4 linked regions of the Homo sapiens genome follow. Each later gene encodes a partner of the first gene's protein in a complex. Each region holds a gene or a part of one and is shown in the gene's direction. Other genes may lie near its edges. The genes, in order: SMARCD2, PBRM1, SMARCC2 and SMARCC1.

Region 1 (7,578 bases):
TTGGGGCAGGGCAAAGCACGCTCACCGGAGCCCTGGATTCCTCATCTGGGGTTCAGGGGATTGATCCAGGCCTACCTGGTCCTGCTGCAGGCAGGGAGTTAGGGAGGCTCAGAGTGCTGGACTGCTTTTTTTTTTTTCTTTAACTCCTGAGTTGTTTTTTTTTGTTTGTTTTGTTTTGTTTTGTTTTTTGAAGTGGGAGGAGTTGCTAGCGCCTATAAGCCCTATGGAGCTTGGCAAGGCTCAGCTGGGACTTGAACTATAAGCAGCCTTCCCCTGGGGCCCTGAGTGAGCCAGGGGCTCTGGGCCCAGGAAACCTGGAGCAGATGTCTGGGTGGAGCCTATTCCAGACCCTGCCTATGAGGCCTTGTCTTGGGACTTCCTGTTACCGGAGCACCTGCCCAGGAGGGATGGGTGGTGCTGCAGGTTTTGTGAACACTGCAGCAGGGAGCTTCCTGGGGACCACAGGGCCCTCGCTCACCTCTGCAGGACCCACTGCTTCAGTTCTTCCCTGTCTTTGTCTCAGGCACTAGGAAAAACTAGTCTGGGATGTCTGGGCCTGGGCTTACAGCTGTAGCCACACTTAGTTTTTTTCTATAATCTCAGGCCAGAGAAAGAACAATCTTTAAGGCAGAGAAAGAGGCTGTCTTTTGCCTTTCAACAGCTCTGATTAATCTCTTCCTGATGCAGAGAGACTTTGGCAGGACTCCCAAAGCCCCAGAGCCCCCCACTTTGAACTTTTTATTCTCCCAAACACTTCCGTCCCACCCTGCTCCTCCTCTCCCCATCCTCACGTCTGTGGGTCATGTTTCTTTCCATCTCCGCATCTGGTCAAGAATCTGACCCTCTGTGTTGGGAACATGGGTTTAGTGCGGGATGAAGAGGTTGGGGAAGAATCTCATCTCCATGATGCTGGGGTGGGGGAGGGTCCTTTGATTTGGTACAAGTCTCCACCCTGCCGGGCTTGGTTGGCTGGTTGTGCTCGTTGCATAATCTGGGCCCTGGGGCCAGCCCTGTGAAGCTGCCAGGGACAGTGTGTGCAAGGCAGAGCTGCCAAACAGGCCTTGCAGGCAGCAGCCATGGGGAGGCGGGTGGGGGTGGAGGTGACTCCCAGATGGGCTCCACAGAAATGTCAGGGAGCAAGGCCTCAGGTGGGAAATCCTTCTGCAGGCATCTAAAGAAGCTATTTCTGTCTCCCACTTTCCTGCTGCTCAGCCTGGGCCTCTATCCTTGCCTCCCAGGATAATCTTAGCCCCCTTCTCCAGCTTGGGATTGCCAGGGCTACACGGAGCCAGAGCCAGTCCTGGCTGCCAGGTGGTGCCTGGACCACTGGCAGAGTCCAGGTGCTAGCTGCTCTCTTTCCCACAGGCCACCCAGGAGCCATAGCTTCCCTTCTGGGGTCTTCTGTCATAGGGGTAGTAGTTGGGCAGTAGGGAGGTAAGAGGAGGGTCCAGTTCTGGGCTGTGGGTGGGGGCTATGTGATACCAGACTACAGGGTACAGGGTCCCTGTACCCTGCCCGAGGCCACCCCCACCAGCTGGTACACGTTCCAAGCCATCCTGTTGCAGCCCTGCTCACCTGGGGTGCTGCTGCCTACCAGACCCCTTTCTCCCTCGGCCACAGAGGATGGGGATTGGGGCTCTGCGCCATTGGCCTACTCATACTATAGTACACTCCTCTGCCTGGCAGTGACACTGCCCCTGTGCCTCTCAGCCATGCTTCTTCTTCATGATGGGAGAAAGAGAAGGAGGGCAGGGCTTGGCAGGACTGTCTGAGAGAATAGGGACCAGCTTGCCCAGGGAATAGGGCACAGCATGCTGGGGCTGGAAGGTAGCAATGGGCCCTGAAAAGCTCCCCAAGGCCCTTCCCTCTGCAGGCAGGACCCTCCTCCCAGCCCAGGTTCTGGCAGGCCTCATTCGCTGGCATGGCTGCCAGGGCGGTTGCAGGGGGCAGGGCAGGTGTGGTTTACACTCTGTGCTCAGGCGCCCACTCCCCTTTGTTCCTGGGGCTCCAGCAGGGCTCTGGTGTGCTGCTCAGGCCCTACCTGGCTGACGAGAGGGATGGAGGGCATGGGCTATGGGTCCCGGAGGGCCTTGCCCCTGACCTATGCACCCCCGTTGGCTCACTTCCCCCAGCGACCTGGCATGTCACCAGGGAACCGGATGCCCATGGCTGGCTTGCAGGTGGGACCCCCTGCTGGCTCCCCATTTGGTGCAGCAGCTCCGCTTCGACCTGGCATGCCACCCACCATGATGGATCCATTCCGAAAACGCCTGCTTGTGCCCCAGGCGCAGCCTCCCATGCCTGCCCAGCGCCGGGGGTAAGAGCATCCTGCTTCTCTCACTCTGCCTAACTCAGCTCTGGTGGTAGCAGAGGGTTTCCTTCTATCTTAAGAGCTTTGGTGACTGAGGATGACTCCAGGCTCTCCTGGGGGAGAGGGTCCTGGAGACTGGAGGGGCGTTATGGGAGTGAGTGTCCTTTTTTGGACCATTGACCTCTTAAGTGGGTTTCTGTCCTCCCCAGGTTAAAGAGGAGGAAGATGGCAGATAAGGTTCTACCTCAGCGAGTAAGTGTTAAGAGGACACCTGGGAGGCCTGCCCAGTGGCCACCTTGGGGTGGGTGTCCATCTCTCTCAAAGCTGGGCTGCAGCAGGAAGGGAGGAAAGAGCCAGGCTTTGGCTGAAGCAAGCTGATGAGCTTCTGCTACCTTCCTTCAGATCCGGGAGCTTGTTCCAGAGTCTCAGGCGTACATGGATCTCTTGGCTTTTGAGCGGAAGCTGGACCAGACCATTGCTCGCAAGCGGATGGAGATCCAGGAGGCCATCAAAAAGCCTCTGACAGTATGTGTGGCCCTGACCACCTCTAGCCTTCCCAGGTTTCCTTGCCTTCCACCCCCTTGTTTTCCAGGGGCCAAGCAAGTTGGGCTAGAGCCGGGTTTTTCACATGCAGGATGCAGCCCACTAGTAGAGTACGAACTCAGTTGAATGTGTTGGGGCCAGTATGTTTTAAATGAATATATGACAGTAGAAAATCTTAAAATACTTCACAGTAGTACTTACCATAGTAGTAAATGGATTCTTTCATGACATTTTTGTTTCTGATAAATAGATATGCAGACCTTGGGTCATAATTGAAAATGTAAATCTTATGGGTGGTGGTCAAAAGTTTGAAAACCACTAGACTAGGGGATAAAGGTAGTTCCTTTCTCCTTCCCCTTCCCCATCCATAGAGAAATTTTCTTTTTTTTTTTTTTTTTTTTTTCTGAGATGGAGTCTCGCTCTTTCACCTAAGCTGGAGTGCAGTGTTGCGATCTCGGCTCACTGCAACCTTCGCATCCCAGGTTCAAGTAATTCTTCTTGCCTCAGCCTCCCGAGTAACTAGGATTACAGATGCCTGTCACCACGCCCGGCTAATTTTTGTATTTTTAGTATCGCCATGTTACCCAGGCTGGTCTCGAACTCCTGACTGCCTCGGCCTCCCAAAGTGCTGAGATTACAGGCGTGAGCCACTGCACCCAGCCGAGAAGCTTTTCTTAATAATAATGTAGAACAGTCCCGAGTGGTGAAGCCTTTCCAGGGGACTAGGATATTTTGGAGCCGTGATGGGTGTTTGGGTTTCATGTAAGATGTGAGCCAGAGACTGGCTGCGTGTTACTCCATCATGCCGTAGCACCAGTCCCACTGTGCTGGCATTGTTGGTGATGCATCTCTTTCCCCATAAAATGGTGAGTTCCGGCCAGGTGCGGTGGCTCACACCTGTAATCTCAGCACTTTAGGAGGCCGAAGTGGGCAGATCACCTGAGGTCAGGAGTTTGAGACCAGCATGGCCAACATGTTGAAATACCATCTTTACAAAAACACAAAAAATTAGCTGGGCATGGTGGTGCGCACCTGTAGTCCCAGCTACATGGGAGACTGAGGCAAGAGAATCGCTTGAACCTGGGAGTCAGAGGTTGCAAGTGAGCTGAGATCGCGCCACTGCACTCCAGCCTGGGTGACAGAGTGAGACCATGTCTAAAAAAAAAAAAGGCTGGGACTGGGACTTACTACTTCTGATTCCCAGTACCTGACAAGGTGCCTGGCTGGCTCATGGTGCTCAGTACTGATTGTTGAATGGTTCATATGAGAAGATGCGGTAGCACTGTGTCCCAGCATCTTGGTCCACCTCCAGTTGTGATTGCCTTTCTCTCTTTAGCAAAAGCGAAAGCTTCGGATCTACATTTCCAATACGTTCAGTCCCAGCAAGGCGGAAGGCGATAGTGCAGGAACTGCAGGGACCCCTGGGGGAACCCCAGCAGGGGACAAGGTGGCTTCCTGGGAACTCCGAGTGGAAGGAAAACTGCTGGATGATGTGAGTTGGGGAGGGAGGTTCTGGAGGGAAGGAGGCCTGTGTGGGTTTAAGACTGAGACCAAGGAGTTTGATACTAGCCTGAGCAGCAGAGCCAGACCCCATCTCTACAAAAAATTTAAAAATTAGCTGGGTGCGGTGGCATGCACCTGTAGTCCCAGCTACTCATAAGGCTGATGCAGGAGGATGGCTTGAGCCCAGGAGGTCGAGCTTCAGTGAGTTATGATCACACCACTGCACTTCAGCCTGGGTGACAGAGTGAGATTGTGTCTCAGAAAAAAAAAGACTGGGCCAGACACTTGGGCGCTCCCAGAGAAGTCCTGCCATAGGGAGGGGGGCGCTGCTCCAAGCCCGTTGGAGGTTGATTTGTGTGGTTATTACAGTGTTCCTGCAGATGGCAGTCGAGTGTCTCGAGGAAGTCCCTCGTGGGCTGCAAGAGGGCACCATTTCCCTGCCTCCAGTCTGCCCAGAGTCCTGCTTCCATCCTTCAGGGCCCAGGAATCTTCAGTATCCGGAGCTCCAGGGCTGAAATGGGGCTTCTCTTTCTTGGGATTTAGCATAGCTTGAGATTTGAGAGCTCAGCAGCACCATCTCACACCCCTTTCCATCCCCAGCCTAGCAAACAGAAGAGGAAGTTTTCTTCATTCTTTAAGAGCCTCGTCATTGAGCTGGACAAGGAGCTGTACGGGCCTGACAATCACCTGGTGGAGGTGAGAGTGGGCCTGGGGCAAAAGCAGGCTGATGTGCAGGTTTGGCAGGGAAATGGCCTCAGGGCCCTTGGGAGGCCCTGTGTTCACGCCCACCCCCTTGGTGATAAGCCATGCTTCCCTCCCTGCCAGTGGCACCGGATGCCCACCACCCAGGAGACAGATGGCTTCCAAGTAAAACGGCCTGGAGACCTCAACGTCAAGTGCACCCTCCTGCTCATGCTGGATCATCAGGTGACAGAGACCCTGGGGTCATTTCTGGGCCCACAGGGACCCCTCAGGAGGGGAGCTGGTTCCTAGAAACCCTTCCTGTCCCTGCCCTATTTTCCCACTGTTCTACTATAAGAACCCGTTCTGACTCCCCTCCATCCAACTCCAGCCTCCCCAGTACAAATTGGACCCCCGATTGGCAAGGCTGCTGGGAGTGCACACGCAGACGAGGGCCGCCATCATGCAGGCCCTGTGGCTTTACATCAAGCACAACCAGCTGCAGGATGGGCACGAGCGGGAGTACATCAACTGCAACCGTTACTTCCGCCAGGTTAGCCAGATGCCAGCCCCCGTTTTCTCAGCCCTTGCTTTGCCTTGCCTGCTGGGCTACTCCTTGGCCACAGCCTGCAGACTGCTGCCCTCACTGGTCCTGGAATGGTCCACTCCACTGTGCCCACAAGCCAACGCTGAGCCTTTCGTATTTCCTCCAGATCTTCAGTTGTGGCCGACTCCGTTTCTCCGAGATTCCCATGAAGCTGGCAGGGTTGCTGCAGCATCCAGACCCCATTGTCATCAACCATGTCATTAGGTAAATGCAAGGAGGGGGACAGGAAGGCTCTTCTAAGAGCAGATTCACCCTTGGCTTGAACTAAAGCCAAAGAAAGCATCAGGTTTCTTTTTCCCTGAGTGTGTGCAGAGAATGGGCCCCAGATTTGGCCCAGGTGGGCAGGATGAAGTCAGCTATGTGCCTTCCCTCCCCATGTGCTGCCTGCAGTGTCGACCCTAACGACCAGAAGAAGACAGCCTGTTACGACATCGATGTGGAGGTGGACGACCCACTGAAGGCCCAAATGAGCAATTTTCTGGCCTCTACCACCAATCAGCAGGAGATCGCCTCCCTTGATGTCAAGGTGGGCCCTCTGGCTCCACAGCTTCCTCTGGGGCCCAGGATTGGGGTGGGCTGGCTCTGTCCAGCATTTCCATACATGTAGCACCTGGAGGACGGGATGGGAACTCTGGCTCAGTTGCTTGCATGTAAGCTTTGGGGGCACAGTCTGACACAGGTACCCTCTCCAGATCCATGAGACCATTGAGTCCATCAACCAGCTGAAGACCCAGAGAGATTTCATGCTCAGTTTTAGCACCGACCCCCAGGACTTCATCCAGGAATGGCTCCGTTCCCAGCGCCGAGACCTCAAGGTGTAGTCCTCTTTCCCGAGGGGACTCCTATGTAAAGCTCTGGGTGATTTTTACCCACAGCAGTTCCCAGGGTGGATTAGCCCAGGGGTGGGGATTATGCTATGGCTTTCCTCCTGGCTCTTTGCAGATCATCACTGATGTGATTGGAAATCCTGAGGAGGAGAGACGAGCTGCTTTCTACCACCAGCCCTGGGCCCAGGAAGCAGTAGGCAGGCACATCTTTGCCAAGGTGAGGCTCTGCCCTGTTTTCCCTCCTTTGGCCGTGAGTAGCAAAGGCCTGAGCCACTTGGTTTCTCCCTTCTCCAGGTGCAGCAGCGAAGGCAGGAACTGGAACAGGTGCTGGGAATTCGCCTGACCTAACTGCTCAGGGATCTTTCTTCCCAGCCCTGGAGCCTGGAGGGAGACCACCCTCTGGGTCCTTGCTGGGGCCGCAGACACGTAGGCTGGGGTGAGGAGTGTCTGCTGTCACCCTCTACTCTCCAGCTTTAGTCTTATAAATGTAGTGATAGGATTCCTTGTTGCTTGGTCCCCAAAGCCTTATACTTTTTGCATTGGCTTTAATTGGGTTCAGCAGATGCCTCCTCTGCCCCCCTGCAGGCAGGCCCAAGTAGGACTGCTGGAGGCTGTGCTTTGACATTGTAAGACATTTCCGAACCAAAGGCTGCTGGGTTTGCATGTTTACAGACTCCCCCTGGGGCGAGGGTCAGAGCTGGCTCTGGGGAGCTGGGCTAGGAAGAGGAGGTGCAGCCCAGACTCTTCCTAGCCTTTCTAAACCAAAGTTCTTTGCCATTCCTACAAGCCCAGCCTTGCTGCTGGTTTTTTCCTTTCCTTTGGGTATTTGCACTATTTTGGGAGCAAGTTTTCTATGTGGGAGCCACTTTTTTTGTACAGGGGTAAGTTGGGGGTTTTCAGGGAGCCTGTTAGGTGCCTCCTTCTTTTCTTTCCTCAATCTATGCAAGCGGCTCTGGCCGCCATCATCTCCTGGGATGCCAGAGGGCTGCCTCTCCAGCGGCTTGGGCCGGGGAGGGGACACTCCAGTTCTCTAGCATGGCCTGAGGTATGGGGTATGTGCATGTGGAGGCCAGGGTAAGGTGAATGGGGAGGCTGGGAGGACTGGT
Region 2 (7,578 bases), on another chromosome or scaffold:
GGAGTTCGAGACCAGCCTGACCAACATGGTGAAACCCTGTCTCTAGAAACAATACAAAAATTAGCCAGGTGTGGTGGCACGCACCTGTAGTCCTAGCTATTCGAGAGGCCGAGGCAGGAGAATCACTTGAACCCAGGAGGCAGACTGCAGTGAGCCAAGATCGCACCACTGCACTCCAGCCTGGGCGACAGAGCGAGAATCCATCTCAAGTCTTAAAAAAAAAAAAAAAAAAAAAACCTGGTGCAGTGGCTCACACCTGTAATCCCAGTACCTTGGGAGGCTGAGGCGGGTGGATCACAAGGTCAGGAGTTCAAGACCAGCCTGGCCAAGATGGTGAAACCCCATCTCTACTAAAAATACAAAAATTAGCCGGGCATGGTCGTGGGCACCTGTAATCCCAGCTACTTGGGAGGCTGAGGCAGGAGAATTGCTTGAACCTGGGAGGCAGAGGTTGCAGTGAGCCGAGATGGCGCCACTGCATTCCAGCCTGGGCATCAGAGCATCAGAGCAAGACTATGTCAAAAAAAAAAAAAAAAAAAAAGGCCGGGCGCAGTGGCTGACGCCTGTAATCCCAACAGCTTGGGAGGCCGGGGCGGGTGGATCACGAGGTGAGAAGTTCAAGACCAGCCTGGCCAAGATGGTGAAACCCCATCTCTACTGAAAATACAAAAATTAGCCGGGCATGGTGGTGGGCATCTGTAATCTCAGCTACTCAGGAGGCTGAAGCTGGAGAATTGCTTGAACTTGGGAGGCGGGGGTTGCAGTGAGCCGAGATCATGCCACTGCACTCCAGCCTGGGAGACAAGAGCAAGACTCCGTCTCAAAAAAAAAAAAAAAAAAAAAAAAACAAAGACAAAAACTACATTATCTCAATAGATGTAGAAAAGGCTTTTTGACATATTAAAAACTCTAGATAAACTAGGTATTAAAGAAACATACTTCTAAATAATAAGAGCCATCTATTACAAAGCCACCCAACGTCATGCTGAAATAACCAAAAGCTGGAAACATTCCCTTTGAAAACTGACACAAGACAAGAATGCTGTCTCCCACCACTCCTATTCAACATAGTACTGGAAGTCCTGGCCAGGGCAGTCAGGTAAGAGAGAGAAATAAAGGGTATTCAAATAGGAAGAGGGAAGTCAAACTACGTCTCTTTGCAGATGACTTAATTCTATATCTAATAAACCCATAGTCTCAGCCCAAAAGCTCCTTCAGCTGATAAACTTCAGCAAAGTGTCAGGATACACAATCAGTATACAAAAATCACTATCATTCTTATACACCAATAGCAGCCAAGCCAAGAGCTAGATCAGGAACGCATTGTCATTCACAATTGCCACAAAAAGAATAAAATACCTGGAAATACAGCTAACCAGGGAGGTGAAAGATCCCTACAATGAGAATTACTCACTGCCCAAAGAAATCAGAGATGACAGATGCAAATGGGAAAACATTCCATGCTCATGGATAGGAAGAATCAATGTTATTAAAATGGCCATACTGCCCAAAGCAATTTACAGATTCAGTCCTAATCGTATGAAATTACCAATGACATTCTTCACAGAACTAGAAAAACTATTTTAAAATTTAGATAGCCAGGCACGGTGGCTCACGCTTGTAATCCCAGCACTTTAGGAGGCTAAGGCGGGCAGATCACTTGAGGTCAGGAGTTCAAGACTCTGGGTGACAGAGTGAGACTGTCTAAAAAAAGAAAAAGAAAATTTAATGTTTCAGGAGGAATAAAATAAATAACATTTAAAATGCTTATTATTAGCTCTTCCATTTATGGGAAATTAACCTAAGGAAGTAATCAAAGATTTGGGCAAAGCTTTATCCTCAATAAAAACCCTGTGATATTTGCAAACGATAGCTTGTACTGGAACTTTTTTTTTTTTCTTTTGAAATGGAGTATTGCTCTGTCACCCAGGCTGGAGTGCAGTGGCCTGATCTTGGCTCACTACAACATTCACCTCCCAGGTTTAAGCGATTCTTCTGTCTCAACCTCCCAAGTAGCTGGGACTACAGGCACCTGCCATCATGCTGGCTAATTTTTTAATATTTTTAGTAGAGATGGGGTTTCACCATGTTGGCCAGGCTGGCCTTGAACTCTTCTTGACCTCAAGTGATCCGCCCGCCTCGGCCTCCCAAAGTGCTGGGATTACAGGCGTGAGCTGCCGCTACCGGCCTGTACTGGAACTATTAATAAGTTTTACTTAACAAAAATAAAAGTCATCTGGGCGCGGTGGCTCACGCCTATAATCCCAGCATTTTGGGAGGCTGAGGCAGGCGGATCTCAGGTCGAGAGATCGAGACCAGCCTGACCAAGATGGAGAAACCCCATCTCTACTAAAAATACAAAATTAGCCAGGCGTGGTGGTGCATGCCTGTAATCCCAGCTACTCGGGAGGCTGAGGCAGGAGAATTGCTTGAACCTGGGAGGCAGAGGTTGTGGTGAGCTGAGATTGTGCCATTGCACTCCAGCCTGGGCAACAAGAGCGAAACTCCGTCTCGAAAAAAATAAATAAATAAAAATAAAAGTCATTTTGAAAAGCATTTCCTCTCAGGGCTAGTGTTCTTGATATATTAAGTATATATACTAGATATAGTTTATAGTATATTGTAGAATATATGTATTCTATATTTCTTCAATTCTAAGACTCCATTAAATGTGTCATATTCGTGTAATAACTTAGTGAAATGAAACACATTAAGAAGCATTAAGGTGGGGATGAAGTATATCAGAGATTATCTCTAGAATTACTTGATTCGAAACGACATACGTACTTCTTTGTGCCTTTCGATATTATCCAAAATGTCCATATGATCATATATTAGTAAGGTGATGTTTTTATTCTCTACATCCTTTGTGTAGTTATATATTCATTTAAATTAATGATGGTTGTAATTCAAAGATAGTTTTGAGTAGAGGCTATTAGGAATGTGAAGATCATACTATTGCTGATTCCTGCCTTCGCATGTTGCAAATGGAATTAAATGTATTAAATGTATTATTAGTATGTGTTGTTTGAACCCTACATCTGACTTCAGCATCCCTTTGGTGAGTACCTTTTTCCTTTATTTATTTATTTTTTTACCTAAGAAGCTGAAAAGAGTGAAGATTCCTCTGGTGCTGCAGGCCTCTCAGGCTTACATCGCACATACAGCCAGGACTGTAGCTTTAAAAACAGCATGTACCATGTTGGAGATTACGTCTATGTGGAACCTGCAGAGGCCAACCTACAACCACATATCGTCTGTATTGAAAGACTGTGGGAGGATTCAGCTGGTAAGTTTGTTTTAAATCAAAGGACAGTTTAGTGAGATATGACTGTTTGACTTCTCCTTGCTCCTCAGGGAAGAAAATTTTAACTCAGACATCTTAAGCCTTTCCATAATAATTGTTCAATATGTCAATAAATGTAAGTAAGCACCCATCATATGAAAAACATAGGACCTATTGGGCAAGTGTCACAGTTGAGTCAAAAGAAATACAGCTTCTAGGTCGGGCGCGGTGGCTCACGCCTGTAATCCCAGCACTTTGGGAGGCTGAGGCGGGCAGATCACAAGGTCAGGAAATCGAGACCATCCTGGCTAACACAGTGAAACCCTGTCTCTACTAAAAAGATACAAAAAATGAGCTGGGCCTGGTGGCGGGCGCCTGTAGTCCCAGCTACTCGGGAGGCTGAGGCAGGAGAATGGCGTGAACCCAGGAGGCGGAGCTTGCAAGGGAGCCGAGATCACGCCACTGCACTCCAGCCTGGGTGACAGAGTGAGACTGTCTCAAAAAAAAAAAAAAAAAAAAAGAAAGAAATACAGCTTCTTAAAGTCTGGTTGAGATTCATTCATTCATTTGATACTTATTAAAAACATACTTTGAGCCAAACTTTATGTAGAGTGACATAGATTCAGAAGAACAAAAAGCTCATATTTTCCCTTGCAAAACTACTCCAGTAAGGAAGATTATGATCAAAAAAGAAATTATTATAGAATGACATGCCTTGGCTTAGCATTTGTTTTCAAAAAGGCTTTCTAGAACAGTTGCCTTTAAATTGAGACATGGAGTATGCATAGAAATTAATGAAGCCAGAAGTTGGTGGAAATGTGATCCAGGCAATCCAGTTCTTTGAGCTGCCTATCACATGAAATACTTTTGTATTCCTTCACCAGAGAGCTAAATATGTCCTTCAGTAGCATATCTGTCCCCTTACTAAAGTGCACAACTCTAGGTATGTACTAACCAGAGCAGAGTGGAGCAGGTCTCATCACCTGTCCTCCTCATTATGTACTTTATATGGCTTTTAATATGAAGAAGAGCCTGGGCAACATGGCAAGACCCCTTCTCTAGAAAAAATAAGAAAATCAGCAGGGTGTGATTGCACTTGCTGTGGTCCCAGCAACTTGAGAGGCTGAGGCAGGAGGATCACTTGAGCCCAAGAGGTTGAGGGTGTATATATATATATATGAGGGGGGAAAAGTAGCATGCATTTTTTAGGCCTCATTACACTTTATTATTTTTGAGTATTATTTCTCCTGTGGATAATTATATTAAACTGTAGCTGTAAAAATAAGCACAGTGCTAGGTTCATGTCATGGCAGAGTGGATTGATGGTGTATTTCCTAATTTTGCAAAGAATGTGTGATTTCTGAGCTGGACACAGTGACTTATACTTGTAGTCCCAGCTACTCAGGAGGCTGAGGTTGGAGGACCACTTTGGCCCAGGAATTCAAGTCCAGCCTGGGCAACGTAGTGAGACCCAGTCTCTTTAAAAAAAAAAAAAAAAAAAAGTGATTTCTGTTAACAATGATTCTCTTTCTCTTCCCCTTCCCCCACCCCCCATTTTTGAGGTGAAAAATGGTTGTATGGCTGTTGGTTTTACCGACCAAATGAAACATTCCACCTGGCTACACGAAAATTTCTAGAAAAAGAAGTTTTTAAGAGTGACTATTACAACAAAGTTCCAGTTAGTAAAATTCTAGGCAAGTGTGTGGTCATGTTTGTCAAGGTAAGAAACTCATTAAATCCCAAAGTCTCACTCATTCCCTAGGAATAAAATTTTAAAACACAGAAAATAATCGATGTTTACAAAATTAGGAACTCTGTTTTAAGCTATTTTTTAAGCCGTGTCTATATAGCTATATGAAAAGATTTGGGAAGAAATTAACCTGAACTTCGTTGTGAAAGACCACTTGCTGCTTACACTATTTGGCTATAATGCAGTTAGGTTAAGTTTTTAATATTGCCAGGCTAATTTTTAAGTATGATGTTTTTTTAAGGATAATCATTACAAATTTTCAGTTTGTTTTTTAGGTAATAATGTGTGCTTTTGTGTGTCTGTCTGATACACACACACAAGCCCTCTTCAAAGCTTTAAGGAACATTATAGCTATATGAAATGTTCATATGTTTTCAAAGAGCAATTGTAAGCTAAATGGAATTATTTGTTTTTATAATTTAAAGGGTGTGTATATAATAAGTCCATTCCGTAGCCAAAGAAATACTTCTAAATCTCTGGTCATTTATTATTTTTTGTTAACTGCCAGAAAGTCTGTAATCAGTTCAGCTTTTGTTTGGTTGGTTGGTTATTTGCTTTTTTTTTTTTTTTTTTTGATTGATTTTCAGAAAATTCACCTAACTAGTTTTATTCTTATGCCCTCCCCACCCCCCAGGAATACTTTAAGTTATGCCCAGAAAACTTCCGAGATGAGGATGTTTTTGTCTGTGAATCACGGTATTCTGCCAAAACCAAATCTTTTAAGAAAATTAAACTGTGGACCATGCCCATCAGCTCAGTCAGGTTTGTCCCTCGGGATGTGCCTCTGCCTGTGGTTCGCGTGGCCTCTGTATTTGCAAATGCAGATAAAGGTGATGATGAGAAGAATACAGACAACTCAGAGGACAGTCGAGCTGAAGACAATTTTAACTTGGAAAAGGTATGCAGATAATAGCCACACAGAAAAAATTTTACATCTCAAAACACCTATTCCAGAAAATAAATGAATAAAGTATTCAAACTTAGAAAAAGAGCAACAACACAAAACCTTAGCCAAACAGGAAGAAGGAAACTATAACAGAAAGAAATTTACACTTTCAAAACTGTACATTATAATTTAAAAGTAAATCAGGCCAAGTGCATTGGTTCACGCCTGTAATCCCAGCATTTTGGGAGGCCAAGGCGGGCAGATCACGAGATCAGGAGTTCGAGACCAGCCTGACCAACATGGTGAAACCTCATCTCTACTAAAAATACAAAAATTAGCTGGGTGTGGTGGCGCGTGCCTGTAATTCCAGCTACCCAGGAGGCTGAGGCAGGAGAATGGCGTGAACCTGGGAGGCGGAGGCTGCAGTGAGCTGAGACCACGCCACTCTACTCCAGCCTGGGCAACAGAGTGAGTCTCTGTCTCAAAAAAACAAAAAATTTTTTTAAAGTAAATCTAAGAGCTAATTATTTGACAAGTCCAATTAGATAAACTGCCAACTATCTAATAATGGGAAAAGAAAGGGGTTAAACTTCGACACAAAATGTGGAAGAAGGCCAGGCGCGGTGGCTCACACCTGTAATCCCAGCACTTTGGGAGGCCAAGATGGGTGGATTACCTGAGGTCAGGAGTTCGAGACCAGCCTGGCCAACGTGGTGAAACCCTGTCTCTACTAAAAATACAAAAAATTAGCTGGGTGAGGTGGTGGGTGCCTGTAATCCCAACGGGAGGCTGAGGCAGGAGAATCGCTTGAACCCAGGAGGCAGAGGTTGCAGTGAGCCGAGATCGTGCTATTGCAGTCCAGCCTGGGCAACAAGAGCGAAACTCTGTCTCAAAAAATAAATAAATAAATAAATGTGGAAGAAATGTAAAGACTGTATATTTCTGCTAATAAATTTGAAAACCTAAATAAAATGGCTAATTGTCTAGGATATTACAAATTACCAAAATGGAATCAAGAAGAGATATAATACAGAATGTACAACAACATGAAGAAATTTTTTAAAGTATCATAGAACTGACCCCAAAGAGTACTGAGGTCAGACAGTTCCATAGGTGACTTTTTCTTTAAGGGACCTATGATTATTATACTGTTGAAGCTGTTTCAGAGCAGGGAGAACAAGAAATTTCCAGTTTGTTTTGCAAAGCCAAGATAATCTTGATTTCACAACCTGAAAAATAAAAACAAAAAACTGCAACTCAGTCTTATTCATGTATATTGATGCAAAAATTACTTGGGGGAAAAAGTAAGTGAAATCAAATTACTTCTTTGAGAACAACATGACCAAGAAGTGGGAATTCATTCTAAGAAAGCAAGAATTGTTCAAAGTTAGGGAGATCTTTAAATTTCATTCATTATTCCATTAGATCAAAGGAAAGATTATTTGGTAGAGAACCCATCTTGATTTTTTTTAAGACTTTCAATAGGTATTTCTTCTAGTGTAATTTTTTTTTAAATTCATATTTGTGTCTCAAGCCTGAAGCCTATAAAACAAATTCCTTTTTAAATTTACACACTGGACAAAGGGGCTTACTGTTCTAGTGTTACTTAATATTTTTTGAAATTAGCCAATGTAGTTAGATAAACAAAAGCAGTAA
Region 3 (7,578 bases), on another chromosome or scaffold:
GAGTTGCAGTGGATCATCTTTTGCGTCCTATGTTAGAACCCCACTTTGGAGACATTGCTCCACCAATACTGGTTTACAGTCTGTATTCTGTAGACTCACCCCAGGTATTCCAGAAGTGTATTTCAGGGGTAGGATTAGGGCTGCCACCAAGAAGAGTTCTGGCTTCTACCTCCTCATCAATCAGCTCTCTCTCTTCTCTATGTTTGCTCCTGAGCATATGTATATGAATTCAGTTGAGGAAAGTATCCTCTGCTTTCAAAAATGTTTAACACTTAACCATTCTTCCACAGAGTGATTTGGTCAGATTCAGTATCAGACCATTAAAAGCTTACAGATACATAGATGGAGATAAAGGCCTGTCAAAGACAAGAATCATTTATGAATGTACATAGAGAAATAAGTTAAATTAATTTTTGGTTGGAGAAGTGGGGAAAGTAGCAAGAAGTTTGAAGCCCTAGAATAATTGTGACTGGAGAGAATTACTATATTTTGCAATCAGGTGGAGACAATTTTTGGAGAAAGTAGGATGTCTGGAACTATTAAATTGAAGGCTTGAATTAGGCAAAATCTGTCTGATAAAATGACTCTCTGTTTTCGCAGTCAACACAAAGAAAGACTCAGAGTCGGCCCCAGTCAAAGGCGGCACCATGACCGACCTGGGTAAGACAGGAGCCTCTTGGGCACGGCAGTCAGAGCCAAGGGAAGGGGAGGGCTCAGCTGCCCCCTTTTCGCTAGCCTGATGGGCTTTTGGTAGGGCTTTCTTGCCCCTCAGGAGGCTCCAGCCTTACATCTTGGTTTTTCTCTTTCAGATGAACAGGAAGATGAAAGCATGGAGACGACGGGCAAGGTGGAGCCAGTTTAGAGAGGCCCTACCTCTCTATGTGATTCTGATTTGTGATTATAAAGTTCATTCTGCCCAAACTTTTCACTGCCCAGACTTTACCCACTGTAGACTAATTCCAGCTTTGTTCAAAACTCTGACCCTTTCAGAGTCCTGGGGCCCATGACTGCTCAGTCCCATCACCCATCTTTAGTGTCCACATTCCTGGGGTGTGGGAGAAGCAGAGGGTTGCTAGGGAGGAAGCAGGAATGCTGAGTGTCCAGCAGCCTCCATACTCGTAGGATGAGGATGAGAACAGTACGGGGAACAAGGGAGAGCAGACCAAGAATCCAGACCTGCATGAGGACAATGTGACTGAACAGACCCACCACATCATCATTCCCAGCTACGCTGCCTGGTTTGACTACAATAGGTATGGTTGTCCCCAACTTCTCACTGAGTCCTTATTTCCCTGCCTCCAGGGGTCAACAGGCTGTTCTTCTCCCTGCCTCCTCCAAATAAGTTATTTTTTCCTCACCCAAATAGACCAGAGTACACTTTAGTTTTAGGGGAGCTCCTTGTGTCCTTTTGAGTCTTACAGCCTGTGGGATGTTCTCCCCAAGCTTCTAACTTCAGCAATTTCGAGCTCTTTTCCTTCTTTGCCTTCTAGGCTTTTCCTCCCTTTGGGGCCCCCATCCCTTCACCAATGCCTTCTTCTGAAACCATTCTGGCTTTTCTTGCAGTGTTCATGCCATTGAGCGGAGGGCTCTCCCCGAGTTCTTCAACGGCAAGAACAAGTCCAAGACTCCAGAGATGTAAGGAAATCTCATCTCATGATTCTCCTTCTCCCTCCTGTCCCCACATTCACCCTTCCTGATCCAGTAACATTCAGTTTAGCAAACATTTCTTGAGCATCTTCCATGAGCCAGGCACTATGCTAGGCTTACAAAGGCACAATATCTGCCTTTAGGCAGCCCTGGCCTAGCATGTAGACACATGTTCTTTAGGATTTGCCCAAGGGTGATATTAAGCATGTTCTATACATAACAAGTACCTACTCCAGTGCCTCAACTTCTTTTTAACAGGGTATAGAGCCTTTAAATCCATATTACTGATATCGTCTATACTGCAGATATTCCTAGCACAAAAGTTTTGATTAAAGTGTAAATTACTATTACCAGGCTGGTTCCTGAGAGTAGGTTTTAATAGAAAAACAAGAGAAGGAACTAATAGAAGACCAGTTTATATAAATTAAGGGATGGAGAGGGCTCACTGGGAAAGAAGTGTAGGAGCCACGGTGGCTCACGACTGTAAATCATCCCAGCTACTTGGGACACTGAGACAGAAGGATTCCTTGAGGCCAGGAGTTCAAGAATAGCATGAGCAACATAGCAAGACTCCCATCTCTAAAGAAGTGAAAAAAAATTAGCTGGGCCTGGTGGGGCATACCTGTGGTCCCAGCTACTTCGGAAGCTGAAATGGGAAGATTGCTTGAGCCCAGGAGTTTGAGGCTGCAGTGAGCCATGATCACACCACTGCTCTCCAGCCTGGCTGACACGGCAAGACCCCGTATCTAAAAAAATTAATGAACAAGGCTGGGTGTGGTGGCTCACGCCTGTAATCCCAGCACTTTGGGAGGCCGAGGCGGGCGGATCACAAGGTCAGGAGATCGCGACCATGCTGGCTAACATGATGAAACCCCATCTCTACTAAAAAGACCAGGCGCGGTGGCTCATGCCTGTAATCCCAGCAATTCGGGAGGCTGAGGCGGGCGGATCACCCGAGGTCAGGAGTTCGAGCTCAGCCTGACCAACATGGAGAAACCCCGTCTCTACTAAAAATACAAAACTAGCTGGGCGTGGTGGCACGTGCCTGTAATCCCAACTACTAGGGAGGCTGAGGCAGGAGAATCGCTTGAACCCGGGAGGCGGAGGTTGCAGTGAGCCGAGATTACGCCATTGCACTCCAGCCTGGGCAACAAGAGTGAAACTCCGTCTCAAAAAAAACAAAAAAACAAAAACAAAAAAAATTAGCCGGGCGTGGTGGCATGCATCTGTAGTCCCAGCTAGTCTGGAGGCTGAGGCAGGAGAATCACTTGAACCTGAGAGGCAGAGGTTGCAGTGAGCCGAGATCACGCCACTGCACTCCAGCCGGGGTGACAGAGCGAGACTCCGTCTCAAAAAAAAAAAAAATTAGCTGGGCGTGGTGGCAGGCGCCTGTAGTTCCAGCTACTTGGGAGGCTGAGGCAGGAGAATGGCATGAACCTGGGAGACAGAGCTTGCAGTGAGCCGAGATTGCGCCACTGCACTCCAGCCTGGGCGACAGAGCAAGACTCCGTCTCAAGAAAAAAAAAAAGATTTTGCCTCAGGCCAAACCTGCTTGGCTTTGGATAAGACATGGCAGTCTTCTTTGGTTAGGAATACTTCAAGATAACCACATTGATGAGGTGGGTGAGACTGAGAACTGAACAAGTTTTCTTCCCAGCTATTCCACAGCTTCCCCTCTCTGGGGGTCCCTCCGTGTTTTTTCTTCATAGCTTGCTATGGTTCTCTCTTCCTTCTCTTCCTGGAGAAAGCAGTATGTGTGAAAAGAAAGTAGTGATCAGGTGAAATGAATTCAACATGACATGCAGGCAGGGTTGGAGTAGGAACTGAACTCTTGGTATAAAATAGTAAATGATGGCTGGGCATGGTGGCTCACGCCTGTAATTCCAGCACTTTGGGAGGCCCAGGCGGGCAGATCACGAGGTCAGGAGTTCGAGACCAGCCAGGCCAACATGGTGAAACCCCGTCTCTACTAAAAATACAAAAATTAGCTGGGTGTGGAGGCACGCACCTGTAATCCCAGCTACTTGGGAGGCTGAGGCAGGAGAATCACTTGAGCCCGGGAGGTGGAGGTTGCAGTGAGCCAAGATCTCATCATTGTACTCCAGCCTGGGCAACAAGAGTGAAACTCCATCTCAGAAAAAAAAAAATAGTAAATGATGATAATTGCCTGCATCTATTGAGAGCTTAGTATCTCCCAGGCACTATACTAAATGTCCAACCTACATTGAGTAATTTAATCTTTACGTCAACCTTAGAGGTAGATATCATCTTCAGTTGACAGATAGGGTATAGAGGAGTCAAGTCACCTGCATAAAGTCACAGAGCTAGTAAATAAAACCAGGATCTGAATCCTTTAATCTGGCCCATGATCTGAAACTTTACACTGTACCACATGATAGCTGCCATTTTTTTGAGCCCCTACAATGCGCCAGGCACTATACTAGTACTTTATAGACCTCTCAACAGACATTCCATTTTACAAATGAGGAAACTGAGGTTTAAAAATTCGAAGTAAATTGCCAAGGTCCTCATGGTAGAACTGGGATTTGAACTTAGATCTTTTCAACTTCAAAACATATGTTTTTTACCGTGGTATGCTGACTAGCTATATGCATGAATAAGGACTTCCTTTTAACATCTGAGTTTGGAAATGAGTATTTTCTTAACTTCTAATTCCTTGTTTAAAAATTGTATAAAATGGCTAGGTGCAGTGGCTCATGCCTGTAATCCCAGCACTTTGGGAGGCTGAGGCAGGAGGCTCACCTGAGGTCAGGAGTTTGAGACCAGCCTGACCAACATGGAGAAACCCTGTCTCTACTAAAAATACAAAATTAGCCGGCCGTGGTGGCACATGCCTGTAATCAGAGCTACTGAGGAGGCTGAGGCAGGAGAATCTCTTGAACCCAGGAGGCGGAAGTTGCCATGAGCCAAGATCATGCCATTGCATTCCAGCCTGGGCAACAAGAGGGAAACTCCATCTCAAAAAAAAAAATTGTATGAAATATCCCTAAGTATAGCCAAGGAGATAATTCATTTAAAGAAAACCCCATCAAGGAAAAGTAAGACATATTTGAAACCCTTTCATCTAGCACATAGCAGGCACTCAGCATGTAGAGTCAAATAATCTACTTTTTTCCATCTTTATCATGCAGGAGAAGTCATTAGCTCTCTTACCATTTTTTCCTTTAGCCCTTTAACAAACATTTATTTTTCTTCTTCTTGTTTCTCTCTCTCTTTCTTCTAAGCTACCTGGCCTATCGAAACTTTATGATTGACACTTACCGACTGAACCCCCAAGAGTATCTTACCTCTACCGCCTGCCGCCGAAACCTAGCGGGTGATGTCTGTGCCATCATGAGGTGGGTCTTGTGGCTGAGGGGAAGGGGGTACATGAGGATGCCTGCCTATGGATGTGTTTTGGCAACAGTAGAGATGCCAGCAAGGAACACAGAGGAGCAGACAGAAAAAAGCACCTCTAGAGAAAGGTGAAGTACAGGTTTGGGGAATGAATGACTTGAGGGATTAGCAATGGCATTCTCTGAAGTGTAGAATATAGGACAAAGAAGGAGCATGTCTGTAATTGAAAGATACTGGTTCAGGCCAGGTGTGGTGGCTCATGCCTATAATCCAAACATTTTGGGAGACCAAGGTGGGAGGATTGCTGGAGCCCAGAAGTTCGAGACCAGCCTGGACAAAATGGCAAAACCCCATCTCTAGAGAAAATGCAAAAAAATTAGCTAGGCATGGTGGCACGTGCCTGTGGTCTTAGTGACTCAGGAGGCTGAGGTGGGAGGATCCCCTGAGCCCTGGAGGTGGAGGCTGCAGTGAGCGGTGATCACACCACTGCACTTCAGTCTCTCTTAGGGAAAAAAAGAAAGAAACTGGTTCAGTTTTACTAGCTATTCAGGAAGAAATGTTCGGTAGGTAGGTAGATATAGAGATTGGCCCAGGCTGAAGATGTAGACTTGGGTGTCACTGGCATTTAGGTGATAAATGAACAACTGGAGTAGGTGAGATTTCTTAAGGAGTACAATGAACAGAGGAAAAGGCCGGGGTTGGGTGGGGAGGGGGTTTATGCCCCTTCTACCCCCCACTTTTCCTCTTCCTCGTGCACCTTTCTGGCTATCCGTGTGACCCTGTCTCTGCCTCTCTCTGCACAGGGTCCATGCCTTCCTAGAACAGTGGGGTCTTATTAACTACCAGGTGGATGCTGAGAGTCGACCAACCCCAATGGGGCCTCCGCCTACCTCTCACTTCCATGTCTTGGCTGACACACCATCAGGGCTGGTGCCTCTGCAGCCCAAGACACCTCAGGTAGGGTGAGGTGCTATGGGGATGGGGCGGGTTGGGAAGATTGGGCTTCTTTGAACTTTTCTTTTTCTGGTTTTTAGGGTAATGGTTCAGGAGTGTTTTGAGGCTTCTTCCTTTTCCATGGGATGCAAAGGGTCACGGGAATCAGCCCCATGTGTTTAGCATCCTCTCTCAGCCTTTGTACCTAAGGCTGTAATTGCTGAGGGAGAAGAGATTATCCTTTTACTCAAGGAGTAGACAGGCTAATGTAGGGGAGTCAATAGAGAAAAATGGCTTAAAATTAACTTGCATGAAATTTTTAAACTTTGTCATCTTTGCCACATTTTTTCATTTTTGCCTCATAATTATCATCTTCATTTTTTTTTCCATTTCCACTTCATCCATTACAAAAATTAGGAAGAAGGTTATGTGGCTTGCCCAAGGTCACAGAGTACCAAATCTAGGATTAGAACCTAATTGTCCAGCTCCTAAGAGAACCTATAAAGATAATGTGAATATGTATGGATATCATGCCAACGACATGTCTTATTAATCATGAAGGGAACATGGAACAGTGGCATGAGTGCCCCCAGAGCTTGTGGGCCGCCCAGCATATGGTCTTGAGGCCTCCAGGGCCTTGGCCTGGTCATTTCCTGCCCAGCCTCCATGACGCCAAGCTCTGTCCCCCAGGGCCGCCAGGTTGATGCTGATACCAAGGCTGGGCGAAAGGGCAAAGAGCTGGATGACCTGGTGCCAGAGACGGCTAAGGGCAAGCCAGAGCTGGTAGGTGGGGTGCAGACCCTGCTGGGCTGCTCATTTTCCCCTTTATTGGGGGGCCCCTGCCCGGGAAGAAGAGACATGAGAGCAGAGGAACTACAGCAGTAAGGGAGGAAGTCCCACCCAGGGGTGTCCCTGGCTTTGGGAAAGAAGCTCCTTCTGTCTGTTTTTTCTCTCTGTCAGCCCCTGGCTCCCGGTGGTCACTTGTACTCACCTGTTTCTTTCCCTCCACAAATAGCAGACCTCTGCTTCCCAACAAATGCTCAACTTTCCTGACAAAGGCAAAGAGAAACCAACAGACATGCAAAACTTTGGGCTGCGCACAGACATGTACACAAAAAAGAATGTTCCCTCCAAGGTAGGAGGTGCGGGCCGACTCTAGGGGTAGAGAATGTTCGCTCCTCAGAGGTCACAGGCTCCTTTCTTCTCACCTGCCTGTGTTTCCCCTGCAGAGCAAGGCTGCAGCCAGTGCCACTCGTGAGTGGACAGAACAGGAAACCCTGCTTCTCCTGGAGGTAATTGGGGCAAAGAAAAGAGAGTTTTTCTCTGAAAACAGAAGTGGGCTCCGTGTAGAGGCTCACGCCTGTAATCCCAGCACTTTGGGAGGCCAAGGCAGGAGGATCACTTGAGTCCAGGAGTTCGAGATGAACCTGGGCAACATAGTGAGACTCCGTCTCTACGAAAAATTTTAAAAATTAGCCAGGTGTGGTGGCACACACCTGTGGTCCCAGCTACTCAGGAGGCTAAGTGGGAGGATTGCTTGAGCCTAGGAGGTCAAGGCTCCAGTGAGCTTCAGGACCAGCTCCAGGCTGGGGATTTGGGCCATTTCATTAACTTCATATCCTTTCTTAGTGCTACTTCAAG
Region 4 (7,578 bases), on another chromosome or scaffold:
GCCCGAGTTTCTCTCATTTTTTATGCCAGCTAAATAATAGGAAACATAGCATTAGAAGATATTCAGTAACCAACATGAAAGATTTCCTCACAGTGTGCATACACTTTACATACTTTTTCTTGATGCAAAACCCAGGAAATATATCATTCTATGTACTTTTGAACTACACTAAGATGCATAGTAAATCTTCTATTAAAAAACTTTTCTTAAGGACAGAGATGTCCAATCTTTGGCTTCCCTGGGCCACATTGGGCCACACATAAAATACACTAACACTAACAATAGCTGATGAGCTTAAAAAAAAATCCCCCCAAAAAATCATAGTGTTTTAAGAAAGTTTATGAATTTGTATGGGCCACATTCAGCGCCATCCTGGGCCACATGTAGGCTGCAGGCCACAGGTTGGACAAGCTTGGTTTAGCTAAGAGAACCTTTTTTTTTTTTTTTTTTAATTAGGAAAACAGTCTGCCTTTTTACATTTGAGAGCCATAGCAAAGTCAGATTTATTTCTTGGTTTAGTTCAGTTTCCTGTGGTTTGAGTTCAGTAAACTTTATTAGGTATTGTGTTTTGGACACTGACAGACACTGCAGGTAGAGATCTGTAGAACACAATCTGTACCTTTAAGGAATTCATAGTCTGCTTAAGTGACAGAGAAAGATAAAACACAAAGCTTGAATGCGGAATTCCCAGCTTTATGATTAGAGGTATGTCCAGAGCACAAGAGCTGTACAGAGGAGTTGCTTTGCAAACAAGCCAGGTAGATAAGACATAATGAACAGGCTTCTGGGAATGGTATAGCTGTGTTGGTCCTAAAACATGATGTTTCCAGTGCAGAACAAATGGTTCATAGGCACAATACCTAGTAGGAATAGATCAGTGGGGCCTGTGTATTGTTGAAACGTGAAGAGTAGGGAATAGGGCGGGAGAAGTAGGCAGTGTCCTGATCATGTTTGGCTTAATTTCATAAGATAATGACACATAATAAAATAGTTTTAGGCAGGAGAGAAAGAGTGTTTTATGTAAAACATATTTCACCCTAGCAGCGTGGAGAAGGATGAAATTACTATAGAAAGGTAATTATAATAATCGATCTATGAGGCTGAGATGGAAGGATTGCTTGAGGCCAGGAATTGGACAGCAGCTTGGGCAACATAGCAAGACCGTGTCTCACAAAAAAAAAAAAAAGAGAGTGAGTGAGTGTATCCAGGTTAAGTAATGATGAAGACCTGAACCTGGGTTATGGCAGGATGAATGAAGCTGTTTTGTAGCATTATAAGATACTTACTAAAAACTTTCATTGAATCATCCTCCTTCCTGGCCAGTGTGTCACCGCATTATTCTCTTTTCAAAACATCACTTTAATTTGCCTCTCTTATTAGCATTATTATCAGTTCCTAGGCTCAGACATTTACAGATTCTCAACTCTGTGCTCTTCTGGATGCTGAGTCTTGCTTGGATTTTGTATCTCAGAAGTTTCCCCAACTCCACCTTTATTCTGGAAAAAAACTTGATGAACTTTCTTATTGTTCCCTGGCGAAAGGAACATGAAAAAATATTTTTTAATTAAAAATTTCATTGGAAAAGGGCATGATAGAGCATGTCTAGAAAATCCCTATTTATAATTAGAAACATAATACAGCCCCAGTAGATATATTTCTACTTCCGTGGACCCGAGTGAGATTTATTTTTCTTTTTTCTTACAATCTGGATCTTTCAAAAAGTAATTCCTTCTCGAACTACCTGAGGTTACTGAATATCCAGAGGAAACCCAGAATTAGCCTAGTTTTTCAAGGGATTTAATGTGTCAGGCCATTTGCTGGCTTGGGTTTTGAGAAGTCCTCTACCATTCCAGCAGAAATGAAAGCCTGAGCAGCAGTTGGAACCCAGAGTTAAGAATTAATTGATGTCCAGGTGCAGTGTTTCACACCTGTAATCTCAGCACTTTGGGAGGCTGAGGCGGGAGGATTCCTTGAGTTCAGAAGTCCGTGACCATCCTGGGCAATACAGTGAGAACATGTCTCTAAAAATTAAGAAAAAAAAATCTTTGAAGTAAAATAATTAACTGAAAAAGTAAACATGGAGACAACTATTGTTATAGAAAGCTCAATCTCACAGTGTAGAGCAGCAAATTAGGCTCTAATGCAAGGTTTTTCAGTTGGAGCATTCAATATTGACATTTGGGCCAGATTTTTTTGTTGTTGGGGTGGAGGGTTCATATATGTTTTACAGCATACATGGCCCCTCCTTGCTGTTAGATACCAGCAGCACTTCTCCAGTTGGGTCAACCAAAAATGTCTGCAGACATTGCCAGTGTCCTCAAGGGGGCAAAAATTACCCTTCATTGAGAACCATGGTCCTGGAGAGAATGGTGTGAGAGTAGCAACTTCAGTATGCCACTAAATAAATTCTTTTTATCCAATTAATTCCTCAACATTCTTAGCACCACATAGTTGTGGTTTTCTTTCTACTGTTCTATCCGTTTTTCCCTCGGAGACTCCTTTTACTCTTTTTGTTGGTTTCTTTCAGGATTTTCTCTGAAAAAATAATAAATTATAAAACTAGAAATGTATGTAGTTTATAAATTTTAGAATCAGTTTATCAATTTCTACTAAAAAGAAGCCTACTTGGAGTTTGACTGGAATTGTATTGAATCTGTAGTTCAACTTGGAAAGAACTGACATCTTAATACTGAGACTTCTAATGAATGAACACAATATATCTCTTCCTTTATTTGGGTCTTTGAGTTCTCTCATGTTTTACTCATTCTAGTCTGTTGCTCTTATACATTCTTTATTATGTTTATTCCTCCTAAGTATCTCATTATGCTATTTAAGACAGGGTCTTTTTTTTTTTTTTTTTAGAGTTTATTAAGCAGGGGAGTGGAGGGGAGATGTGGCACAAATAGAAGTATGTAACATTCAAACAACAGAAACTAGGATTTTTGAAAAAACTTTCAGTTACAGTTACGCAAAGGGTCACTTCCTCCCCCAACGACGCATGGGCCTCTCAAAGGAGAGGAGGGAGTAAGTCCCATGGTAGGGCCAGTGCTTGCTCCTGGGTTTTGGAATCATTTCTGCGGAGCTTTCAAAGCCAGACCCTGGGCTCAGGGTTGAGACTTCATAGCGGTGACAGCTAGACCCAGCAAGATGGCTGTGACCGTGAAACCCTGGGCGGCGATCCAGGTGCACATCATGAGCTGAGAGCGCTGGCTGTTGCCCCGGTGGAAGGAATAGAGGCTGTAGGTGAGGGCGGCCGCCGTGGCCAGGCAACCTATGGGTACCACCGGGTTCTCGTGGGTCTTGTGAAGGAACTTTTCCTTGAAACTCTCTGGATTCCTGTAAACAGTGGGGCTAAGCCCCTCAATGACTGGGGGCTTCGATGGTTCAAAGGGGACCTCTGGAATCACAGGGCCGGAGTCGCCATGTCTGGGCCACAGCAGCAGGAGAAAATCGCGACCTAAGACAGGGTCTTGCTGTGTTTGTCAGGCTGGCCTTGAACCCCTGGGCTCAAGAGATCCTCTCGCCTCAGCCCCCTGAGTAGCTGGGAGTACAGATGTGTGCCACTACACCCAGCTTTTATGTTATTTTAAATACTTTTTTCTTCCTATTTAAAATTGTTCATTGCTATTATGTATGGAAATATAGTTCAGTTTCTCTATTGCCCTTCTATCCTGTGACTTTGCTCAGCTATTCAGTTTTAGTACTTTTTTTTATAGCTTCCTTAGAATTTTCTACATAAACAGTCATGTCTGTATGTATTAGTAAAAAAGCCCTTCCTTCCTTCCTTCCTTCCTTCCTTCCTTCCTTCCTTCCTTCCTTCCTTCCTCCCCTCCCCTCCCCACCCCTCCCCTCCCCTCTCCCCTCCTCTCCCCTACCCTCCCTTCCCTCCTTTCCTTCCTCCCTCCCTCCCTCCCTTCCTTCCCTCCCTCCCTCCCTCCCTCTTTTCTTTTGTTTCTTCTTTTCTTTCTTTCTATCACTCTTGCCGCCTAGGCTGGAATGCAGTGGCACAATCTCGGCTCACTGCAACTTCTGCCTCCCAGGTTCAAGCGATTCTGGTGCCTCAGTCTCCTGAGTAGCTGGGATTACAGGCACGCACCACCATGCCCAGCTAATTTTTGTATTTTTAGTAGAGATGGGGTTTCACCATGTTATTGGCCAGGCTGCTCTCGAACTCCTGACCTCAGGTGATCTGCCCACCTCTGCCTCCCAAAGTGCTGAGATTATACGCGTGAGCCACCGTGCCTGGACTACTTTCTTTACAGTATGCATGTCTTTTATTTATTTTACTTGCCTGATTGAAAATAATCTAAGGAAACCATCAAATCTTTCTATTTATGCATAAATATTTGCATTAATTTTTTTTAAAAAAGCTATCTAAAGAACTTCTAATATTACACATTACTTTCTTGTTACCTGACATGAAAGCATCTGTTTTTTCTGTCTTAGGCCCTGGAGATGTACAAGGATGATTGGAACAAAGTGTCGGAACATGTTGGAAGTCGTACTCAGGATGAATGCATCCTCCACTTTTTGAGACTTCCCATTGAGGACCCATACCTTGAGAATTCAGATGCTTCCCTTGGGCCTTTGGCCTACCAGCCTGTCCCCTTCAGTCAGTCAGGAAATCCAGTTATGAGTACTGTTGCTTTTTTGGCATCTGTGGTGGACCCTCGCGTGGCATCTGCTGCAGCAAAAGCGGCTTTGGGTATGGACTTCCCTAAACCATCTCCTCAACAGAAAAACTCAGTTTATCCCAATTTAAATATTACCAGCCGTTACATTCATTTCTTTTAATGTAAATAACAAAAATCAGATATTACCTGTGAAAGATACCATATTCTTTATAAAAGTATTACAATATTTGGCTGGACACCAAATTAGCTGGGTGTGGTGGCACATGCCTATAGTCCCAGCTACTTGGGAGGCTGAGGCAGGAGAATCGCTTGAACCCAGGAGGCAGAGGTTGCAGTGAGCCGAGATCGTGCCACTGCACTCCATCCCCTGGGCAATAGAGCAAGACTCCGTCTCAAAAAAAAAAAAAAAGTATTACAAAATTTTTAAGTAATGCACCTTAAAATTAAGAGCTTTAGGAATTGGAGGGACAGAGGTTTTTTATTGTGTATTTTGTGATTAATTTAGAATTTGGTGTAACTAGCAAAGGAAGTCATTTAATATTCATGGGTTACACATTAATTGTAACTAGAACTTTGTCACATCATAGAACTCTTTCTTGGTTTTATGGATGTTTAATCCTTGCTGTTTTTGTTTTTTTGACTTATTAATCTAGTAAGCAGTTAAAATATGGACAGCAGTTTTGATTATTACTGGCATAAGTTGAAAGATCTCTTATTTCAAGGCTCTGTGATGTGTAGGAGAAAATGTAGAACCATAGAATTTCATTATTATTACTATTTTTTGTCTCATTTAGTCCTCTCATTTTTCTGGTATAGAGGGACTGAGAGCCTGAAGAGGTTGCTACACCTAAGACAATAATACTGTGTTGGGTTTCCTGGTGGTGGTTTTACACTGAAGCAAATTTTTGTGCAAAGTTAGATTGCTGTTCCATTTTTATTCTTGAACCAGAGGAGTTTTCTCGGGTCCGGGAGGAGGTACCACTGGAATTGGTTGAAGCTCATGTCAAGAAAGTACAAGAAGCAGCACGAGCCTCTGGGAAAGTGGATCCCACCTACGGTCTGGAGAGCAGCTGCATTGCAGGCACAGGGCCCGATGAGCCAGAGAAGCTTGGTGAGTCACTGCTGCTTTTAAGGGACAGGGTTAATATATGTTTGTATTCCTGTCAGTTTACTCAAATAATTGGGTTTACTTGCACTAAAAAGTGAGTACAATGATCAGTATAAACTTGTCTTTTAAGATTAGTACATGATTTTTTTTCTCTTGTCTGTTTCTTTTGGTAGCTAGAACTAAAAAATTATCTTGTAACTGTTAATGGTATTACAGTTGTGAATTATCTGGTTGCTGTTTGTAGATCCAGGTTTTGAATAGACAGATACAAGAATACTGAAAGATGCATGGAACTGTAGGTGAAAAAAAGAATATTGAAAGGACTTATGATTATGTTAATTTATATGTTGCTGAGTGGGTTTAAATTCATTGTTTTGGGGGTTTTTTTAGCTGAGGAAAAATTCCTGTAACATAAAATTCCTCATTTTAACTGCTTAAAAGTATATAACCTAGTAGCTTCTGCTATATTTACAATGCTGTGTGTCTATCACCACTATCTAATTCCAGAACATTTTCCTCATCCCAATAGGAAGTCACATACTTATTAAGTGGTCACTCCCCATTCCTTTTGCTCTTCAGCTGTGGTACCCACTAACAATCTGCTTTCTGTCTCTATGGGTTTGCCTATTCTGGACATTTAATATAAACAGAATCATATAATATGTGGCCTTTGTGTCTGCTTCTTTGACTTAGCATAATGTTTTCAAGGTTCTTCCATGCTGTAGCATGCATCAGTATCTCATTCTTGTCAGTGCTGATTATTTCTTTGTGTGGATATACCCAATTATATTTATTTGTCAGTTCATGGACATTTTTATTGTTTCCACTTTTTTTTTTTTTTTTTTTTTTTTTAGACAGAGTCTTGCTCTGTCGCCCAGGCTGGAGTGCAGTGGCGCGATCTCAGCTCACTGCAAGCTCTGCCTCCCTGGTTCACGCCATTTTCCTGCTTCAGCCTCCCGAGTAGCTGGGACTACAGGCGCCTGCCACCACGCCCAGCTAATTTTTTGTATTTTTAGTAGAGACAGGGTTTCACCATGTTGGCCAGGATGGTCTCGATCTCCTGACCTCGTGATCTGCCCGCCTCGGCCTCCCAAAGTGCTGGGATTATAAGCATGAGCCACCGCACCTGGCCTATTGTTTCCACTTTTATACTACTATGAAAAATGCTGCTATGAGTACTTATATACAAGCTTTTTTGTGAACTAAGGATTTTCACTTCTTTTGGTTGGGTGTATACCTAGGGGTAGAATTGCTGAGTTATATGGTAATTTTGTTTACCTTTTTGAGAAACTGCCAGCCTGTTTTTCATAGTGGCTATACCATTTTATGTTCTTACCCGTAATGTATAACATTTCTAAGTTTTTCATGTCCTTGTCAATACTTATTTTCCATTTTTACCTGTAATAGCCAATCTAGTGGTTTGATGTTGGGGTTTGTATTTGCATTGATGACTAATCATCTTGAATATCATGTGTTTATTGGCCATTTTTATGTCTGCCTTGGGAAATACCTACTCAGATTCTTGCCCCCCCCCCCTTTTTTTTTTCTTAGTAGACTTTATGTCTTAGAGCAGTTTTAGGTTCATAGCAAAATTCAGTAGACATTACAGAGTTTCTGTATACTGCCTGACTACCCCTACATGCACAGTTTTCCCCACGATCAATACCAGGGTGGTACATTTGTTATAGTTGATAAACCTACTTTAACACATCATCATCAACCACAGTCCAAAGTTTTAGTTTATTCTGTAATTGATTCTCACATGTTGAACCACCCTCCCTTTTTGTTTTTTGGTTTTTATTTTGATAAATCCGACATGGCCTTTGTAAATAATCC

Evidence for each region.
Region 2: SMARCD2 (region 1) and PBRM1 share a complex: the UniProt entries of both Homo sapiens proteins name them as parts of the SWI/SNF-B (PBAF) chromatin remodeling complex.
Region 3: SMARCD2 (region 1) and SMARCC2 share a complex: the UniProt entries of both Homo sapiens proteins name them as parts of the BAF complex.
Region 4: SMARCD2 (region 1) and SMARCC1 share a complex: the UniProt entries of both Homo sapiens proteins name them as parts of the BAF complex.

What each region holds. Positions count from the first base shown.
Region 1 is NC_000017.11:63,832,180-63,839,757, reverse strand, and holds part of SMARCD2 (SWI/SNF-related matrix-associated actin-dependent regulator of chromatin subfamily D member 2), read left to right. Parts: intron 1-1,029; exon of another isoform or gene 1,030-1,076; coding exon of another isoform or gene 1,077-1,148; intron 1,149-2,132; coding exon 2,133-2,317; intron 2,318-2,520; coding exon 2,521-2,563; intron 2,564-2,713; coding exon 2,714-2,836; intron 2,837-4,190; coding exon 4,191-4,346; intron 4,347-4,957; coding exon 4,958-5,053; intron 5,054-5,182; coding exon 5,183-5,284; intron 5,285-5,429; coding exon 5,430-5,591; intron 5,592-5,751; coding exon 5,752-5,849; intron 5,850-6,035; coding exon 6,036-6,171; intron 6,172-6,337; coding exon 6,338-6,460; intron 6,461-6,587; coding exon 6,588-6,689; intron 6,690-6,766; coding exon 6,767-6,820; 3' UTR 6,821-7,578. UniProt on the Homo sapiens protein: Involved in transcriptional activation and repression of select genes by chromatin remodeling (alteration of DNA-nucleosome topology).
Region 2 is NC_000003.12:52,584,781-52,592,358, reverse strand, and holds part of PBRM1 (protein polybromo-1), read left to right. Parts: intron 1-3,103; coding exon 3,104-3,289; intron 3,290-4,848; coding exon 4,849-5,006; intron 5,007-5,670; coding exon 5,671-5,934; coding exon of another isoform or gene 5,935-5,946; exon of another isoform or gene 5,947-7,178; intron 7,179-7,578. UniProt on the Homo sapiens protein: Involved in transcriptional activation and repression of select genes by chromatin remodeling (alteration of DNA-nucleosome topology). Required for the stability of the SWI/SNF chromatin remodeling complex SWI/SNF-B (PBAF).
Region 3 is NC_000012.12:56,172,079-56,179,656, reverse strand, and holds part of SMARCC2 (SWI/SNF complex subunit SMARCC2), read left to right. Parts: intron 1-600; coding exon 601-660; intron 661-809; coding exon 810-847; intron 848-1,122; coding exon 1,123-1,253; intron 1,254-1,563; coding exon 1,564-1,635; intron 1,636-4,892; coding exon 4,893-5,006; intron 5,007-5,807; coding exon 5,808-5,961; intron 5,962-6,627; coding exon 6,628-6,720; intron 6,721-6,952; coding exon 6,953-7,072; intron 7,073-7,166; coding exon 7,167-7,229; intron 7,230-7,578. UniProt on the Homo sapiens protein: Involved in transcriptional activation and repression of select genes by chromatin remodeling (alteration of DNA-nucleosome topology).
Region 4 is NC_000003.12:47,659,461-47,667,038, reverse strand, and holds part of SMARCC1 (SWI/SNF complex subunit SMARCC1), read left to right. Parts: intron 1-3,104; coding exon of another isoform or gene 3,105-3,426; intron 3,427-4,287; coding exon of another isoform or gene 4,288-4,319; intron 4,320-4,446; coding exon 4,447-4,705; intron 4,706-5,344; exon of another isoform or gene 5,345-5,474; intron 5,475-5,583; coding exon 5,584-5,745; intron 5,746-7,578. Other genes in the region: HIGD2AP2 (HIG1 domain family member 2A, mitochondrial-like), read right to left, coding at 3,105-3,426, 4,288-4,319. UniProt on the Homo sapiens protein: Involved in transcriptional activation and repression of select genes by chromatin remodeling (alteration of DNA-nucleosome topology).